3 linked regions of the Homo sapiens genome follow. The protein of the gene in region 3 purifies or fractionates together with the protein of the main gene of each other region. This does not show direct contact. Each region holds a gene or a part of one and is shown on either strand. Other genes may lie near its edges. The genes, in order: TMEM131L, VPS13A and SLC47A2.

Evidence for each region.
Region 1: the proteins of SLC47A2 (region 3) and TMEM131L purify together in Homo sapiens (affinity purification with mass spectrometry; one large-scale study listed by BioGRID and IntAct). This does not show direct contact.
Region 2: the proteins of SLC47A2 (region 3) and VPS13A purify together in Homo sapiens (affinity purification with mass spectrometry; one large-scale study listed by BioGRID and IntAct). This does not show direct contact.

The regions. Positions count from the first base shown.
Region 1 is NC_000004.12:153,605,810-153,609,463, forward strand, and holds part of TMEM131L (transmembrane protein 131-like isoform 1 precursor), read left to right. Parts: intron 1-3,654.
Region 2 is NC_000009.12:77,337,985-77,341,638, forward strand, and holds part of VPS13A (intermembrane lipid transfer protein VPS13A), read left to right. Parts: intron 1-1,531; coding exon 1,532-1,927; intron 1,928-2,193; coding exon 2,194-2,298; intron 2,299-2,419; coding exon 2,420-2,566; intron 2,567-3,654. UniProt on the Homo sapiens protein: Mediates the transfer of lipids between membranes at organelle contact sites. Binds phospholipids. Required for the formation or stabilization of ER-mitochondria contact sites which enable transfer of lipids between the ER and mitochondria.
Region 3 is NC_000017.11:19,682,071-19,685,724, forward strand, and holds part of SLC47A2 (multidrug and toxin extrusion protein 2), read right to left. Parts: intron 1-3,654. UniProt on the Homo sapiens protein: Multidrug efflux pump that functions as a H(+)/organic cation antiporter.

The sequences.
Region 1 (3,654 bases), on a different chromosome or scaffold from region 3:
CATTTGGTGAAAATCCTCAACTGAATTTTAAATGTTCTGTATAAGGACATTTCTAATTTAAAAGAAAGTTGGAGTCCTCTGAGGGGAATGTGGTCTAGGCAGCTGCACACATGCATTCTTGGTGCATTTAGTCCAACCCGTTTGTACCGTTTCCCCTGGCAGTGGTGCACACGCCTGAAGTGGACTTATGTCTGCAGGGTGGACACTGTGCCCTGTCTCCTCCACCTGGCGTGTGAGTATGCCCCCTGGTAATGCAGTTCACCCAGATCTTCAAATCAAACCATGGCATACCTTGTCTGTGGATGTATTATGATGGGGTGATTGGGTGTCTTATTCTGTTTCTCTCCCAGACACTCTCTGGGGTCTAGAATACAAAACATTTGTGAAAAGGTGAATTATGGAGTGAGTCCTGTTGGACATTTCCCCTGTTACGTGAGTCTTTTAGGCTTGAGCACAGTCTTTGACATAGGATGACTTTGCACACACTTGAAATTAGAGTTGAGGGAATCCTCCCTCCAGAAGTGCTTCTTCTGTGATCGCTTGTGCCCACAAGAGATATGTGCCTGCAAGATGCAATGCCCGTGGCAGTGTGGTAGATGGATGGGAGGGACCTTCTATATCTTAATACTTTAAAGCAGTTGAAATATAAAGGCATGGATGAGAAATGTAGTGTCAGAGTAGGTCAGAGGATTTGAATTCTTCTTCAGGATCCTCCTGTCTAGTACTTGACATTCAATGCCAATAGCTGAGCCAAGATGAGCAGGTAATAACACTTTAATAAGCGTGAGTAAATTTAATATGGGAGTCTGGAAACATAGAGTTTGCCTGTATCATTGTAGATGGTAAACCTGCCCAGAATCTTTCCTTCCTGTACAGATTACTAGTATGCTTATAATGTTTTAAATGGCAACAAATCTTTCACTGCCAGAATTTAAAAATACTGTTTGGCTGGATCAGCAGCATGTTAAGTGGTACCAGAGTGATTGTTGATCAGATCAAGTAAGAGCTGAGGAAAGAACTTTTGCTTTCCACCATGTTCAGACCAGCAAATTCAGAGGTGCTAATTCACAGTCCTCTACGTGTCTGCAGAAGTTATATGTTAGCAGGAGATTCCTCCCAGGGAAGTTTGTACATGGACATGCATTTTGTTCTGACTGTTTTATGTTCACAGCACTGTCCTGGGAAAATATCCGAGATGTTAAAAAGTGAATAAATTGCCTGCTATCCATGTACAATTTAAAATTGTTCAAGAATTTTAAATATTAAAAATAAGAAAGGACTGAAAAATCTAGGGAAAGATAATTATAGTCTGAAGGGAGGGTTTGGAGTTTTTTTAGTAATATTAAGGGTTTGGGGCTCTGTTGAATTTCAGAGGAAAGCATTGCAATAACTTGGCAAATGATAAACGCGTATAATTGACAGGTAAGTCACAAGTGCAAAGAATGCTTGAGAATGAGAAAAGCATATATATAAGAACCTTTAAGTTTTTACTTCCAGCTTTGAGCATTAGTTCTTTGCTAGCTTTGAAAAGTATTTTACTTTGTGAAATGTGTGCTGTTTCCATTGTAAGATCTTTTCTAGAATCTGAAGAAAACAGCTTGGTCTTTGAGCTGGACTCAACCTGCCTGATAGCTGAGAATCCTAAGTGCCAGTCACGTTGTCTCCTGTGTGACTGGCAGTTAGGATTCCAGCAGAATGGGAACTCACTCAGTGTGTTTGCCACATTTTAGCCATTTCTCCCAAAGTATACAAATGGTCTGTAGAAACCATTCTAGTCATAAGATTGCCTTTAAAGGGAAAAAGGGAAAGGTGGGGACAGTCCCGCCTCTTAAGAATACCTTAAGTGATTTTCCTAACTATCAGAACTCCTGGAGGCACCTGAATAATCTGCCTTCTCCTATTCTGAGGCTTCCCCCCACCCCCGGGTGTAGCTTATTGTGTGAGAAGAAAATGTTCTAGGGTATGTATGAATGGCTTTGACTACATACTTGCCATCAAGAAACATAATATTTTGTAAGTAATAGAAAATGTGTCATATTTGGGAGGCCGTGATGGGCAGATCACTTGAGCCCAGGAGTTCCAGGCCAGCCTGGGCAACCTGGTGAAACTCCATCTCTACCCAAAGAAGTATATGTATATGTATAGTAGCCAAATGTAGCCAGGCATGGTGGTACATGAGCATGGGCCTGTGGTCCCAGCTACTTGGGAGGCTGAGGTGGGAGAATCACTTGAACCCAGGAGGTCAAGGCTGCAGTGAGCTGTGATTGTGCCACCGCACTCCAGCCTGGGCAATGAGTGAGACCCTGTCTCAAAAATAAAAGCAAAAACAAAAAATGAAAAAAAAAATGTGTCCCTTTTCTACTCCATTTCCCCTGCCTGCTTCGGAGAGGCCTGTAGTAAATAATTAATTAAAATTCTCAATAGAAATAAAGTCTGCTGACATTCTTTAGGGCTCTGTTTTTCTACACTTGTTTTTTGGCATCAACTTGTCAAACAACTATCAAACAGTTAAACTTGTCAAACATTCGTTATACGTTCCAGAACCTCTTGGTCATCTGACAAGAGTGGGGCTTTATGTGTAATGTAAATGATCTTGTGAATATAGCTCTTTTTAAATGTTTGTAACCATTTTCACTGTCTGATCAAAATAATGTAGATTAGAGTTATGGCTAAAGACAAGCTATGGTTGGCCGCAGCACTACCAAGGAGAAATAGTGAGCAAATTATTTCACGGGTTTCTACCTGTAATAATGTAAAGGTATAATTAAATTTGATAATAGCTCAAGCCTTGAGCTTAACAGTACCTGAAAGTTTTCACTGAATTACATTCCTCACCTTTCTGAAATTATTGGTATTTGCAGAAATTCCAAAAATGTTCCTATTTACTTACAGATACTATTAACTTGAAATGAAGATTTAATGGTTTATTCAAAACAGACCACGTGATTGTGATTAGATTTGAGACAGTACAACTTTAAGCAGGTTACTGAGGAGATCACTTGTGTCTTGTTCTTCCATTTGTTTCTGTTTTTTAACCACTTTTAAAAGGAATTACTGACCTATAAAGCTGTACATACTTAATGTATGCATCTTGATGAGTTTGGGAATAAGTGTACATCGTGAAACCATTACCACCGTGAAGGGCATTAACATGTGCACCTCCCAACGTCTTCTCCTGCCCCCTTTATTATTATTAGTGTTCTTTCCATTTGTTTTTGATTTTTAACTGTGGTACACTCTTACTCAGTGAGGTCATGGGGAAGTTGCACACTTAATAGGATGACTTGGTGTATTAGGCTGTTTTTCACTGCCATAAAGAAATACCAGAGACTGGATAATTTATAAAGAGGTTTAATTGGCTCACAGTTCTGTGGGCTGTACAGGCTTCTGCTTCTGGGGAGACCTTAGGAAACACAGTTATGGTGGAGGGGTAAAGGGGAAGCAAGCACGTCTTGCATGGTGGGAGCAGGAGGAAGAGAGAGTGAAGGGGGAAGTGCTACACACTTTTAAACAACTAAATCTCGTGAGAACTCTCTCACTATCATGAGAACAGCCAGGGAGAAGTCAGCCCCCATGATCCAGTCACCTCCCACCAGGCCCCTCCTCCAACATTGAGGATTACAATTTGACATGAGATTTGGGTGGGGACACAGA
Region 2 (3,654 bases), on a different chromosome or scaffold from region 3:
AATTTTTTTGAGACTAGGTTTCTCTCTGTTGCTCAGACTGGAGTGCAATGATGCGATCATAGCTCACTGTAGTCTCAAACTTCTAGGCTCAAGTGATCCTTCCACCTCAGCCCCCCGAGTAGCTGGGACTACAGGTGCATGCCATGCCTGGATAATATTTTTTAATTTTTAATTTTGTAGGGACAGGGACTCACTATGGCTTGTCTTGAACTCTTGGGCTCAAGTGATCCTCCCGCTTCGGCCTCCCAAAGTGCTGGAATTACAGGCATGAGCCAGTACACCCAGCCGTTTACACTTTTCTGATACATGTCTCTTTTGGAGGAAAAAGTTAACATATTTATGGTTTTAAATGTGTATTTCCATATTGAATAACAAATTATCATAGTGGTTAAGAATTTGTACTTTGCTGTCAGGTAGATTTGAAATTGCATCCTAGCTCTGTCATTTGCTAGCTGTATGTTCTTAAGCAGGCTTTATTGCTTTTCTAAATCTTTTGCTGTGGTCTGTAAAATGAGAATAATAATAAAATTTGCTTGGTTAAGACATGGGGGAAATCAAATTAGATTGTGTATGTAAAGGATTTGGTACAGTGCCTCCCAGACACAGGGTTGCCATTTATTTATCACTCTAGCACTACCACCACCATTGTTATTTTGTGGAATATTATTTAACTTGTAAAGAATCAAGAACTCCTTACTTTTGCTTTAATTAATTTAAAATCATGAGATGAAGAGATTCCTATATTATAATAATAGGAAAAGAATAGGATAGAGATGCTGGAAAAACTGGTGAGATATTCAGATGTACTGTCAATTTATATTTCTGTTCTCATAGAACTTTTAATTGGATGCTGTTAGTGATCACATTCTGTCTGCCAGTTTCCAAAGGGTGTGATCAGTTTTTAGAAAGACAATTGAGCCATGGTGTGGGGAAGGGACTAGAGGGGACAAGAGCGGTTAGGGGACTCTTAAACTGAGACGTCATATAGTGACATGAACTAAGATAATAGAAGGGAGGGTCGAGGGAAATGAGCAGTTTGGAGAGATACATATGACGTAATAATATAAACAGTGATTGGAAATGGGTGATGAGGGATTGTGGAGGTAGTAGGGATTACTTATTTTGGATTACCATCAGTTTTTGCCCACATTTTACGTTGTTTTGTAGTTTTCAAAATAAAAATCACGAGTGGTTAAGATTGTCTTTTTGTCGTTGTTTTACCAATTATAGTGTTTTATGTTTATAATTTCCAGGGGAGTTTCCCATTATGTTATTTAATCTTCACAGTTTGTCCTTTGAAGTAAGTCATTTAGACCATTTTACAAATACAGTAGCTCAAATCTCAGATTAAATACCGTGTAGAGGTTTACACAGTTGACAAAGTTAGAACTTGAATGTAAGTCTTCTGACTTGTTCTGATAGGTATTTCAAAAGCATTTTTTGCAGCATTTGGAATACATAAATAGAATTTTGAGGCATATTATTCTGCAACATTTTAAATTTTGTTTTGTTTTTTTTTTTTTTATTACAGGGAATTGAAAATTCGGTTTTTACTCTAAGTGAAGGACATTCAGCCCAGATTTGTACTGCACAGTTGGGTAAAGCCAGGCTACATTTAAAATTACTTGACTATCTCAATCACGATTGGAAAAGTGAATATCACATAAAGCCTAATCAGCAAGACATTAGTTTTGTCAGTTTTACTTGTGTTACAGAAATGGAAAAGACTGATTTAGATATTGCTGTCCATATGACTTACAATACTGGTCAGACAGTTGTGGCATTTCATAGTCCTTATTGGATGGTCAATAAAACTGGCCGCATGTTACAGTACAAAGCAGACGGAATTCATCGAAAGCATCCACCTAATTATAAAAAGCCAGTTCTCTTTTCTTTTCAGCCAAATCACTTTTTTAATAACAATAAGGTATGCGATGTTTATTCTGTTTTTCCCTTGTCTTTAGCTACTTGTCACTTTTTAGTTTTTAAAGTTCTGAGTAATAAATATTATGAAACTTGGATAGAAATAACTTGTTAAATATTTGAGGCCAAAAAGATTAGAATTTAATATTATAAAGGTTTAGTGCATTAACAATATAATATTTTGTTTATGCTAAAAAGTAATTTATCAGTTTAAGCAGGAATTTTTAAAGGTACCTAAATTGTGATGTATTTGGAATATTTTTTTCCTAGGTTCAACTTATGGTAACTGATAGTGAGTTGTCCAATCAGTTTTCAATTGATACTGTTGGTAGTCATGGAGCTGTTAAATGTAAAGGCCTGAAAATGGACTATCAAGTGAGTTCATTCTATGCTTATCAAGAAACTTTTATTTTAAATGTTTCTATTAACTACTTAATTAAATTTTATAAAGATGTTATACATAACAGTTTTTGAGCTGTTAATTTTTTTTTCTTAGGTTGGTGTCACTATAGACCTGAGCAGTTTTAACATTACTAGAATTGTGACATTTACCCCTTTTTATATGATTAAAAACAAAAGCAAATACCATATATCAGTGGCTGAAGAAGGAAATGATAAATGGCTCTCTCTTGATTTGGAGCAGGTGGGTAGATGAATTTCAAAAATATACCTCTTTGGATTCTATTTTCTCCTTGAAGTTAGATACCTAAAGTCACCATGTAATGTTTTAACTCTCCCCTTACTCCAATTTTGTTTTAGTTTCATGAATCTTTATTGAATATTTGTGCCCTGCTCTAGATAGATGGGAAGGTTCAATTTTTAATAATTAGGTAACTAGGAATGCCCAGCTTGTTAAGGGAGGTAGACGTTTAACAATTACTAACCACTTTGGTTAAATAAAGCAGCCAAAGACTAGATAAGATGTAAATGCACCAAAGAGAAGGAAATTACTTATTCTCTCTAGGAAGCTATTAGGAATGCTTTCAGAGAGTAGGGTAAGCCAGACTCTTCTTCAAGTTATTTGAGGAGAGTAGTAACTTAGAAGTGAAATTTTGATTTTGTGCCATCATTAAATCTTTGAATAAGAGTTTTCTGAATGACTGACAGAGGTTGATGGAATATTTTATTTTTGAAGAACTTTTATTCTAAAAGTTAGGATTAGAGAAGTTTTTGCTGTTTCTATTCATTATTCCTTTTTGCATACAAAACCGTCCTTGTTGGGATTATTCTTGAAGTATATTCTTTAGAATTTCTTTTAGAGCTGGTTTTGAAGGTAAATACCATCAGTGTCTCTAGAAAAATCTCTCTGGCGGGAGGGACAATGATCGGGATATAAACCCAGGCGTTCCAGGGGGCAACGGCAACCCCCTTTAGGTCCCCTCCCATTTATGGGAGCTCTGTTTTCACTGTATTAAATCTTGCAATTGCAAAAAAGAAAAAAAAGAAAGAAAAATCTCTCTGGCTGCCTTCAGTCTTCTCTTTGTCTTTGATGTTCTGCAGTCACACTGCTATATGTCTATATGTGGTTTACTTTTTATTTACCCTTCTTGAGGTGCTTTACCCCTAGATCTGTGGATTAATGTATTTCATGCTTTCTGTAAAATTTGCTACTATTGTTTCTTTAAATATTGCCTCTCCTCCATTCTTCCGTTTTTTTCCATCTAAGCCGTTAAATCAGACATGTTGGACATTCATACTCTATCCTCCATGTCTCTTAATAGCTCTTTTATA
Region 3 (3,654 bases):
TAACATAAATTTGGGCCGGGCATGGTGGCTCATGCCTGTAATCCCAGCACTTTAGGAGGCTGAGGAGGGCAGATCACTTGAGGTCAGGAGTTCAAGACCAGCCTGGCTAAAATGGTGAAACCCCATCTCTAAAAATACAAAAATTAGCCAGGCAAGGTGGCACTGTAATCCCAGCTACTTGGGAGGCTAAGGCACGAGAATTGCTTGAACCTAGGATGCACCACTGCACTCTAGCCTGGGCGACAGAGCGAGACTTGGTCACACACACACACACACACACACACACACACACACAAATTTATTATTTTATTTTACAGTTCTGGAGGTTAGAAGTTTGAATTGGGTCTCACTGTGCCAAAATCAAGAGCTTGTTCCTTCTGAAGGCCCTAGTTGAGAATGTGTCTCTGCTTTTTCTAGCTTCTAGAATTCCTTCTGTATTCATTGGCTGGTGGCCCCACATCACTCTAACCTCTGCTTCCAGCCTCACATCTCCTCTGACTCTCCTGCCTCCCTCTTCTAAGGACCCTTGTATTTACATTGGGCCCACTTGGATGACCCAGGATAATCCCCCTATCTCCAGATTCTTAATCACACCTGCAAAGTCCCATTTGCCTTGAAACACTCACAGGTTCTGGGGATTATGATGTGGACGTTGAAACTTGGGGGCCATTATTTTGCCTACCATGCATGGCAAACAGTGGTTGTTAGCTTATTCCATATGAGACAAGCAGCCCTCACCCACTGCTGTCTGTGATTATGTCTCATCTCAAAGATGAGAATTGCTCTGGAAAAAGTACTGTTTATTTCATTAGTCTCATTTTCCCAACGTGATTCCAGATCTTCTGAACTACAGGCACAGCTCATCCTTGGTCAGGATTATTGGCCAATAGATATTTGGTTATTTTTATTTTGTTCCTGTGAGAGGTGGGGAGTATTTTGTGGTTTGTACACATTTGAACAAAGAGGTAATGCACTGGGGTTAGGAGATGTATGCCTCTTGAACTTTGTAATATGGTATGTATATTTCTGGTTATTATATGTCATGGCATGATCTTTTTTGGCTAAAGACTTCTCCCAAATTATGATTGATGTACCCTGGACCAGTGTTTCTCAAATGGGGATGACAAATTCTGGGATGTTTTTGTTGTGACAACTGTGGGGGTGTGGTGGGGGAAAGTGTTACAGCATCTAGTGGGTAGAGACCAAGGATGCTGCTAAACATCCTACAATGCCCAGGGGACCGCCCTCCCCCCACCAAACAAAGAGTTATCTGGTCTAAAGTGCCAGTAGTGCTGAGGTTGAGAAACTCTGATTTAGAGTATTGTGAATTAAAGTGGCAATTTCAGTGGCAGGAAGGGCCAGTGGCTTTGCTAGCCTGAGGTTGTGGGCCTGTTTGGGAGAAGCCATCGACCAGTGGACTAGGCAGGGATTTAAGAGGGAGTTTGATGAGGTAAAACAGCCAAGGGAATGGGGAGGTACTGGTAAGTTCTCTACATATCCCAAGCTGACCAGAGGCTGTGCATATGGTGTAGCAGAGACCAAGCCTCCCACATGTTCCTGGACAATGGAGCCTGTCCACATGGGCTGAAGAGACCCGTAGTACCCAGAAGAAAGTAAAAGCCAGGACTCACTTGAAAACAGCTGGAACTCTGAATACGTCTCTAGCCCACACATGGATCTGTCAGCAGAGAATGGAAGCTTTGCTAGCTATCAGAGGTGTTGAACACAGTCTCTGACCAGTAATTGGCTGAACACTAAGCTCTGCAGACATTTTTAATCCTAGAAAGAACATTTTAAACTAGAAAGCTAGACTTAAAAAAATAAGAACAAGGGGGAAAAAACTGAGCAAGAGACATCAGCAGCTGTACATTGTAGAGGAGACAGGAGTCACAGAATCAGTCTAAGCAAGTTACTTAACCAACACAATGACATTCCTTGGGTCTCACATGCAGCATTCTCCAGGATAGACCTGCGGTAGGCCACAAAACAAATCTCAATAAACTAAACTTAAAACAATCTTTTTTAAGAGATGGAGTCTTGCTATGTTACCCTGGCTGGTCTTGAACTCCTAGGCTCAAGTAGTGCTCTCATCTCAGTCTCCTGAGTACCTGGGACTACAGGCACATTCCATCATGCCTGGCAAATTTTGAAAGACTGAATTCATACAAAGTATGTTCTCTGGCCACAACAGAATTAAATTAGAGATGCCTGCCAGAAATAAAACCCCAAATATTTGGAAATTAAATGCACTTCTAAACCATAAGTCAAAGAATAAATCACATGAGAAATTTAAAAATATTTCAAACTTGAAAATTTTGATGAACATCAAAATTTATTAGATGCAACTAAGGCAATGCTTAGAGGGAAATGTACAGCTTCAAATGCCTATATTGGAAAGGGAGAAAGGTCTCGAATCAATGACCTACTATTCTACCCTAAGAAGCTAGTAAAGAAGAACAAACTATACCTAAATGAAGTAAAAGGATAAGAATGTAAAAGATTAGTGTGGGCCAGGCATGGTGGCTCACACCTGTAATCCCAGCACTTTGGGAGGCCAAGGCAGGAGGACTGCTTGAGGCCAGGAGTTAGAGACCAGCTTGGGCAATATAGCAAGACTCTTTCTACAAAAAAAAAAAAAAAATTAAAAGTTAAAAAATAAATAGATAAAAGATTAGTGTGAAATCATTGAAATAAACAGCAGAAGACTAAAACATGCATCTATTAAAAAAACTACTTTTCGCCCTCTCCCTCTCCCTCTCCCTCCCGCTCTTGCTCTCGCTCTCCATCTCCCTCTTTCTACGGTCTCCCTCTCTTGCGGAGCCTGGACTGTACTGCCATGATCTCGGTTCACTGCAACCTCCCTGCCTCAGGCTCCGGTGATTCTCCTGCCCCGGCCTGCCGAGTGCCTGGGATTCCAGGCACGCGCTGCCACTCCTGACTGGTTTTTGTATTTTTGGTGGAGATGGGGTTTCGCCGTGTTGACCGGGCTGGCCTCCAGCTCCTAGCCTCGGGTGAAGTGCCCGCCTCGGCCTCCTGAGGTGCTGGGATTGCAGACGGAGTCTCGCTCACTCAATGCTCAATGTTGCCCAGGCTGGAGTGCAGTGGCGTGATCTCGGCTTGCTACAACCTCCATCTCCCAGCTGCCTGCCTTGGCCTCCCAAAGTGCTAAGATTACAGCCTCTGCCCGCCCGCCACCCCATCTAGGAAGTGAGCAGCGTCTCTGCTTGGCTGCCCATCGTCTGGGATGTGAGGAGCCCCTGTGCCTGGCCACCCCATCTGGGAAGTGAGGCGCGCCTCTGCCTGGCTGCCACCACGTCTAGGAAGTGAGGAGCGTCTCTGCCTGGCCGCCCATCATCTGGGATGTGAGGAGCCCCTCTGCCTGGCCGCCCCGTCTGGGAAGTGAGGAGTGCCTCTGCCCAGTCGCCCCATCTGGGAGGTGAGGAGCGCCTCTGCCTGGCCGCCCCGTCTGGGAGGGTTAAATGGATTAAGGGCGGTGCAAGATGTGCTTTGTTAAACAGATGCTTGAAGGCAGCATGCTCATTAAGAGTCATCACCACTCCCTAATCTCAAGTACCCAGGGACACAAACAGGGCCGAAGGCCGCAGGGACCTCTGCCTAGGAAAACCAGAGACCTTTGTTCTGGTGTTTATCTGC